3 separate regions of the Homo sapiens genome follow, and all the other regions are linked to region 1. The links come from fine-mapping of genetic effects on gene expression. A gene starts in region 1. Each other region holds a variant in brackets. All regions are shown on one strand. Distances are between the middles of the regions. Region 1 holds the start of GINM1 (glycosylated integral membrane protein 1). Region 2 overlaps PPIL4 (peptidylprolyl isomerase like 4). Region 3 overlaps GINM1 (glycosylated integral membrane protein 1).

What was found. PIP is the estimated chance that this variant, and not a neighbour inherited with it, causes the effect.
Region 2: its variant is fine-mapped to the expression of GINM1 in whole blood (INTERVAL, PIP above 0.99).
Region 3: its variant is fine-mapped to the expression of GINM1 in whole blood (TOPMed, PIP above 0.99). The same link has a PIP of 0.9 or more in lung.

Annotation. Positions count from the first base shown.
Region 1 is chr6:149,564,740-149,567,415 of GRCh38, forward strand. It overlaps GINM1 (glycosylated integral membrane protein 1), which reads left to right and starts at 1,636. Exons shown (of 8, transcript NM_138785.5): 1 at 1,636-1,795. The coding sequence starts at 1,676. RefSeq lists enhancers at 803-932, 2,183-2,232 and a silencer at 1,363-1,912.
Region 2 is chr6:149,525,156-149,527,963 of GRCh38, forward strand. It overlaps PPIL4 (peptidylprolyl isomerase like 4), which reads right to left. Exons shown (of 13, transcript NM_139126.4): 8 at 1,497-1,621; 9 at 1-54. Among named protein-coding and RNA genes, the nearest start is that of PPIL4, 19 kb to the right of the region's middle. The variant G/A (reference allele first, on the strand shown) is at 1,299.
Region 3 is chr6:149,589,782-149,592,589 of GRCh38, forward strand. GINM1 (glycosylated integral membrane protein 1) reads left to right here. Exons shown (of 8, transcript NM_138785.5): 8 at 946-1,967. The coding sequence ends at 1,057. Among named protein-coding and RNA genes, the nearest start is that of GINM1, 25 kb to the left of the region's middle. The variant CCT/C (reference allele first, on the strand shown) is at 1,334.

The sequences.
Region 1 (2,676 bases):
TTTTTTTTTTTGGAGACGGAGTCTCGCTCCACCGCGCAGGCTGGAGTGCAATGGCGCGATCTTGGCTCACTGCAACCTTCGCCTCCTGGGTTCAAGCGATTCTCCTGCCTCAGCCTCCCTAGTAGCTGGAATTACAGGTGCGTGCCAGTATGCCTGGATAATTTTTGTATTTTTAGTAGAGATGGGGTTTCACCATGTTGGCCAGGCTATTCTCGAACTCCTGACCTCAAGTGATCCACCCGCCTCGGCCTCCTAAAGTGTTGGGATTACAGGCGTGAGCCACTGCACCCGGCTTCTAGATTCCTTTTTTTTTTTTTTTTTTTAATAGACTCAGGCGATCCTCCTGCCTGCGTTTGCTGCATAGCTGGGAGTACAGGCACAAATGACCACGCCCATCTCCAAATTCATTTTTAATTCCAGCAGTAGGAAAAAAAGGAAAAGGCCAAGTTTGCAGATGGAACCCAGAAGTGTGTGGGGCTTCGCTGTGAAATCACTTGTAGCTTAACAATGGCGTGGGGAATCTCAGAGTAAGCCCGGAGTTAGTTGAAAGGAGTCTTTAGCCAAAACGTTTATAATTTATTCTGGGGCGGGGCCGGGGGAGGGGGCGGTGGCGGTCAGCAGGCCTGTGGGAGGAGGGTGTTCAAAGGAGTAAAGGGGGCTCAAAGAGAGAAATAGATTCTTGTTTCCTTTTTCATGTCAAAAGTTTTATTTCATGTCAAAAGTTTTATTTCAAAGGAAGACTAAATATTACTCTTATTCTGCCTGAATGGCCAAGTTTCCAAGTTTTTCTCAATCAACATGCAATCCTGTTAATCTAAAATGCTTGAATTTCTTGCTACTCTGCTTTACAGGGTTCCGTAACTTTTTTTTTTTTTTAAATCTGCAAGGTGGAAGAAAAGTCTAACACTTTCACTTTAGAGTTACGATACTGACCAAAAAGGCACTGACAGCCCAGGTGCGCTGGCTTCCTTCCAGCTGAGCGCTGTCCCCGCGCCGCCTCCAGGGGTCGGCAGAATGCTGAACAGTAAGCATGGCGCATCCTCAACCTTGGCCCCACAATGAATCACCCGAGAAAATTAAAAAACCACCAGGGCCCGAGCCGCAGCCCAGGCTGGAAAGTGGGGTGTTCAGGAAGACCCCAGTACTTTTTAAAGCTGCCCGGGAGAGTCCCACGTGCAGCCAAGGGTGGGGAATTACCCACTTAATAAAAACTTCCCCTGTAAATGCGATGTTTCATTTTTAATGTATAACAGTTTTCTGAAATATTACCGTTGTTTTCATCGTATAGGTACATGTACATGTGCACACACAGACACATGCATGTGTGTAAATACTAATTTTAAAAATAATGGTTACGAGGACATTTACATCGCTCCAGTTGGAGTCCTGTCCAATCCTGAGGGCGGGTCTAATGAGGGGCCGTACCTTCCAAGATTTCACTCCGCCCCTCGACGCCGCGCGGCGCTGCGCGTGCGCAAACGCCTTTCCCTGGCGAGCCGGATCTCGGAGCGTCCCCGCGCCTCTCCGCGGCCGCCCGGGGAGGGGAGGGCCCGTCCCGCCCCTCCCCGTCTCTCCCCGCCCCTCCCCGTCCCTCCCGCCGAAGCTCCGTCCCGCCCGCGGGCCGGCTCCGCCCTCACCTCCCGGCCGCGGCTGCCCTCTGCCCGGGTTGTCCAAGATGGAGGGCGCTCCACCGGGGTCGCTCGCCCTCCGGCTCCTGCTGTTCGTGGCGCTACCCGCCTCCGGCTGGCTGACGACGGGCGCCCCCGAGCCGCCGCCGCTGTCCGGAGCCCCACAGGTAGGGCAGGGCGGGCCTGGCTGGCCGCTTTACGACTCCGACTCTCCGGGAGGCCCGGGCTGTCCACAGTGACGCTTCCCACATCCCACCGGCGGGCAGGGGCGGGGGTCCGGGCCCCCGAAGGAGGTGTGGGGAGAAGCACCCCAGGAAATGGGGGCGGCGTGGGAGGCCGAGGTAAGAGGAAAGGGACCCACTGGGGCTGCGTCGCTGTGAGTGAGCCTCGAGCCACTCCACACCGACTCTCCGGCGGCCCAAGCCGGCGCGCGACCTGACGGGGCTTTGCCGTCGAAGCGCGCGGTTGCCGGTGATCAGGCCTTCGTAATGGCGCCTTCCCGGGGTAGAGCCAGCGCTTGGGCAAGGAATGTTTGTGTGCTCGGGAAGTGTGGAAGTTGCCCACTTCGCGCATTTCCAGGCCACTTGTGCCTGCTCGGCCTGCGATCGCGAGGGTCCGCCGTTCCGAGGCTGCGGGGCTCCGCCGGGCTCAGGTGGGCAGAGGGAGAGACCTGGCCCTCGCGCGACGTAATGTTTTTGTCGGATGTTGGAGGAGAAGTTCTCACGGCGGGGCGCGATCGGCGGTGTCCGCATCCCCTGGGGACTCAGCCCGGCCTCTGGGGGCGGGGCCCAGCAGTCCGGGTTGGAGAGTCCTGCAGGTGCTTCTGATGCCAGCTGAGGTGGGAGAATCGAGGCATCCTAACATTAAAACGTGGCTGATGCTCACCATTCCTGCCGTAGAGTCGTGCCTACCTAGGCCAGTATCAGCCTTTTTTCAGTAGAATGGTAGGGAAAAGTTTGAATATTTTAAAGAGCAAGTGTTCTGAGAATGACAAGAAACTATGTCGGTACACCTCTTCCTAGTCAAGACTTGAATATGAACACTCTAA
Region 2 (2,808 bases), 40 kb before region 1:
ATAAAAGCGTAACAGAGGGACTCTCCTGTCTTCCAGTCTCGGATAACTTCACAACTGAAAGAAAGTATTTAAAAGTGACTTAAAAAAAAAAAAAAGGAAGAAAGCATTCACTCTCACTCTTCAAAACTGAAGAAGAAATAAGTCAGTTACTACAAGGCAAAGTTAAATTCATAGATTATTTTTCCAAATTCATTTAATAACAATTCTTTTTTAAAAGTAGTTCACCAGAGCAGTAACTAAATTATCTAAATTCTACTCTAAGTGCCTTATATAGGCCTACAGTCCTAAATTCCCTTAAGCACTGAAGTAAGAATAAAAATATTTAATTTTCCTTTGGCAAAAGTAAACTACTGCTAAAGACTTTTAAAATCACAACACTTTTCTAGTCCAAATATAGTCGAATTATAGAATATCTAACATCTAACATTACTGTAGAATAATGTATGCATACTCATACATATATAAATGTTTAAGTTCAAGCTTTGAAATTTTTGAATTTTAATATAAATCAAGCTCAAATTTAACACTGTAAGCACAATGTTAATTACAGAACTAATATACCATAATAACCAAGTGAAAAGGCCAATAAGCTGAAGTTGAAAGCACCTGGCTTGTCCCTTGCCCCAAGTGTCATAAGTCTCATTTTAAAAACCTCATTTTAAAAGCCGGGCGCAGTGGCTCATACCTATAACCCCAGCCCTTTGGGAGGCCAAGACGGACGGATCACAAGGTCAGGAGCTCGAGACCAGCTTGGCCAATATGGTGAAACCCCGTCTCTACTAAAAATACAAAAATTAGCTGGGCGTGTTGGCGCATGCCTGTAGTCCCAGCTACTCAGGAGGCTGAGGCAGAAGAATCACTTGAACCCGGGAGGCAGAGGTTGCAGTGAGCCGAGATCACATCACTGCACTCCAGCCTGGGCAACAGAGCGAGACTCCATGTCAAAAAAATAAACAAAAATAAATAAAATAAAATAAAATCCCTGAAACAAAAGGAAACCCTAAATATAATACTTTTTAATCAATTACAAAATAGTCCCCTTCCTCACAGAAATACTAGCTTCATAGACTTTTTCATTAATGCAGGGAAAACTAACCAAAAGAAAAATTTTAGAAAATTTAGTTTTAAATTAATTTTGACATAAATTGCTGGTAATTCCAGGAGTTGAATGAGATAAATATTTTAAATATTAAAGAAGGCTGTTGAGAGTATTACAGAACTAGATTTAAATTGTTCCATTCATTTCCTGTTTTAGGGTGAAAATGTGTTGAGAGTGGGAGATTCAATTATTTATCTGT[G/A]TGTGTGTGTGCACGTATGTATGTATGTCTACACACACATATATACTTTTCTTCCCTACTGTCCAAAGACTCACCTGTAAAAATTCACCAGTACAAAATTCGCCTAGAATTCACAGAATCATCAAAATATGTCATTAGAAAACCACCAACTGATACCTAGTTTTTCTAAATATCTCTTTCACTAATTCTAAGGATTACCTTCTTATTGGCCCAAATCTAGAGAATATTATTTCCAGATCCTCATCTGTGGTCACTGGGTTCAATTTACACACAAACAGTACATTTTCTGGAGGTTTAATATCTGCATCAGGTAGGTCTCCCACCTAAATTACAAACAAACAAAAACATAAATCAATTCCTATTTAGTTTCCATTCTAAATCCTATCCAATCCCACAATGCTGATTTCCTTAAAACATCTAAATTTATGTTACAAACTGCAGGCTCTGGAAAAGAAATCCAAATAAGATTTCAAAATTTGAACTACACTGTTCCTATTCTTAACAGTGTTAATAGCTAATATTTAAATAACTCATACTTTGTGTGAACAGTGCTTGGAGCTTCAGATCTATTACGCTAATTCTTGAAACAATCCTGCAATCTCCATTTTAAAGACAAGTAAAGCGGCTGAGCATGGTAGCTCATGCCTGTAATCCCAGCACTTTGGGAGGCCAAGGGGGGCAGATACTTGAGGTCAGGAGTTCAAGATCAGCCTGGCCAACATGGTGAAACCCCATTTCTACTAAAAATACAAAAATTAAACGGGCATGGTGGTGTGCACCTGTAGTCCTAACTACTCGGGACACTGAGGCAGTAGAATCGCTTGAACCCAGGAGGCGGAGGTTGCAGTGAGCTACGCCACTTCACCCCAGCCTGGGCGACAGAGCAAGACTCCATCTCATAAATAAACAAATAAAATAAAGACAAGTAAAGTGAAATTTAAAAGGTTAAACAAGTAACTTGCCCAAGACCACACAGTGGTAAACAACAGAGCTGGGATTTGAACCTACATTTATCTGGCTTCAAAGACCAATTTTACCCCTACTTCATCTTTTTTCAAGTATTTGATATATTTTTTAAAGGATAAGAATTTATGTAAAGTACATGTAAGTCATAAAGCATAAAAATAAAAACCACTATGATGCTACCATCTAGCTTAAGAACTAAAATGTCACCTATCCCATTCTCCCTGTGCCTCCTCATCAGAGACAACAAATACCCTGCTTTTTGGTTTTCCTTTTTCAGTCATTTCCTTGCATATCATCAGAGTTTTACCATATATGTATGCAACTCTATCACATTTAGATGGGGCAACAACATCCCTTTATACATACATTCAAACACTCTTTCAGAGATTATTTCTGATAAGATCACCTGTAAAGTGTCTCCTCTTGGATAAACATGCCCTTCCCCCCAAAATCTTGAAAATAAAAAACAGTAAGAAGCAACACAGCCAGTAAGATCTCCTCAGTGTTTCTGAAGTCTATCAAAAGACAACATTATGTCCAATAA
Region 3 (2,808 bases), 25 kb after region 1:
AGTTTTAATTACTCTCATGTTTTGTTTTTGTTTTTGAGACAGGGGCTAACTTTGTCACCCAGGCGGCAGTGCAGTGGCACGATCTCGGCTCACTGCAACCTCCACTTCCCGGGTTCAAGCGATCCTCCCACCTCAGCCTCCTGAATAGCTAGCTAGCTGGGACTGCATGTGTCCCATGCCCAGCTAATTTTTTCTATTTTTAGTAGAGATGGGGTTTTGCCATGTTTCCCAGGCTGATCTTGAACTCCTGGGCTCAAGTGATCTGCCCGCCTTGGCCTCCCAAAGTGCTGGGATTATAGGTGTGAGCCCCTACACCTGGCCTACTATCATGTTTTAATAAAACCTTTGAGAGCTACTTAAGACAACTTTGTCTTCTCCCCATTGTTCTTTTAAAAAAAATCTTATGGCTGTTCTTGCAGTTACTCCCCTGTGAACTTTAGAATCTGTTTGGTTCTATAAACAACTAACCCCCGTTGATGTTCTTATTAGAATAACACTGAATTTACAATGCAGGGTCCTAGATTCAATCCAAAGACGTACTCTCTGGTCAGGGATTTTAAGTAACAAAAAGAGCAACACTATCTAAAGACCTAAGGTTGTGTTGTGGTGGTGAGTATTATTTAGAGAGAGGCTTAGGCTTAGGCTTTTTGCTCAGCCTGGGTGTATCTAGGAACCTAACTCTGCCTTGGAGATCTATACTTACCCTATTCTTCCCTAAAATAGGAAATAATGAACTTCCTCGATGCCTTTCTATTCTCTCAGCCAGTTTGGTTAAAGTGACTTTGGGCTCAGTTTGTACAACCACTATGAATTTTTAAATAGAATGTAGCAAAAGCACCTAACCTTAGGTGTATATTATAACCTTGAAGTAGCCTTTTCTCACTATCAAACTACAGGCAGAGGAAACATTTAATTTTGATAGTAATTAATCACTTTCTATTTCAGAGGAATTCTTCAGTTGGATAAAGTGGACGTCATACCTGTGACAGCTATCAACTTATATCCAGATGGTCCAGAGAAAAGAGCTGAAAACCTTGAAGATAAAACATGTATTTAAAACGCCATCTCATATCATGGACTCCGAAGTAGCCTGTTGCCTCCAAATTTGCCACTTGAATATAATTTTCTTTAAATCGTTAAGAATCAGTTTATACACTAGAGAAATTGCTAAACTCTAAGACTGCCTGAAAATTGACCTTTACAGTGCCAAGTTAAAGTTTACCTTATTCTCGGCCGGGTGCAGTGGCTCATGCCTGTAATCCCAGGACTTTGGGAGGCCAATGCGGGCGGATCACGAGGTCAGATCAAGACCATCCTGCCAACATGGTGAAAC[CCT/C]GTCTCTACTAAAAAAAATAAAAAAATTAGCTGGGTGTGGCGGTGCACGCCTGTAGTCCCAGCTACTTGGGAGGCTGAGGCAGGAGAATTGCTTGAACCCGGGAGGCGGAGGCTGCAGTGAGCCAAGATCACGCCACTGCACTCCAGCCTGGGTGACAGAGCGAGACTCTGTTTCAAAAAAAAAAAAGTTGACCTTATTCTCTAAAAGGGCTGGCTATTCATATGATGAATTGTTAAGGAAAACTTAAAGTGGAAGAGAACACATGTGAAGAGACTTTGAAATTATCAAAAGAAAAAAAAAAGACCAGACAAAATCTCATGTGCCAATAACTTTTCAAGGTGCCTTTGTTAAGGAAATTATATCCACTTAATTACTATAATATATAAGACTTTATGAAAAGCACTTTATAAAATTCTAATTTAAAAGGTCAAGAACTTAACACTTATTTTTTTATTCAGTACAGTGTGCCTTTATATTAAGTATGTGACTCAGTATAAAATCACTGAAGTGTATCATGATTTGATTGTATCCTGTACCAAGACTACTTACCTTGAATGCTCCAAGATTTAAAAGTAGTATGACATGTTCTCACTCTAAAATAAACTTTTTTTTTTTTTTTTTGAGGAAAAAAGTATAGCTGTTTTGGTTACACTGATATAAAACCTTTGCCCAGGTAAGAATGGCTGAGATGCAGGAGTAGGTATACTTTCATTTACACTGGCTGAAACCATGGCTCAAATTGAATGAGTCCATTGATGTCATGAATTAGACTGTGCCCTTGGTCTTGTGGTTCTAGATATAGTGCTGTTTACCCTAAAAGTGTTTTATTACCTTTTTTAACCATCACTCATATTGACATATTAATATTTTACAATGTGAACGAGTACATATAACTCATCTCTATGTGATACTTTTTTGAGATGGAGTCTGGCTCTGTCGCCTAGGCTGGAGTGCAGTGGCGCAATCTCGGCTCACTGCAAGCTCCGTCTCCCGAGTTCATGCCATTCTCCTGCCTCAGCCTCCCGAGTAGCTGGGACTACAGGCGCCCGCTACTATGCCCGGCTAATTTTTTGTATTTTTAGTAGAGATGGGGTTTCACCATGTTAGCCAGGATGGTCTCGATCTCCTGACCTTGTGATCTGCCTGCCTTGGCCTCCCAAAGTGCTGGGATTACAGGCATGAGCCACCGCGCCTGGCCCTCTATGTGATACTTTCTGTTGTTTCATTAAAAAATATTTTTACTGGCCGGGCACAGTGGCTCATGCCTGTAATCCCAGCACTTTGGGAGGCCGAGGTGGGCAGATCACGAGGTCAGGAGATCGAGACCATCCTGGCCAACACGGTGAAACCTCGTCTCTACTAAAAAAAAAAAAAATACAAAAAATTAGCCGGGCGTGGTGGGGGGCACCTGTAGGCCCAGCTACTCGGGAGGCTGAGGCAGGAGAATTGGTGTGAACCCGGGAGACAGAGCT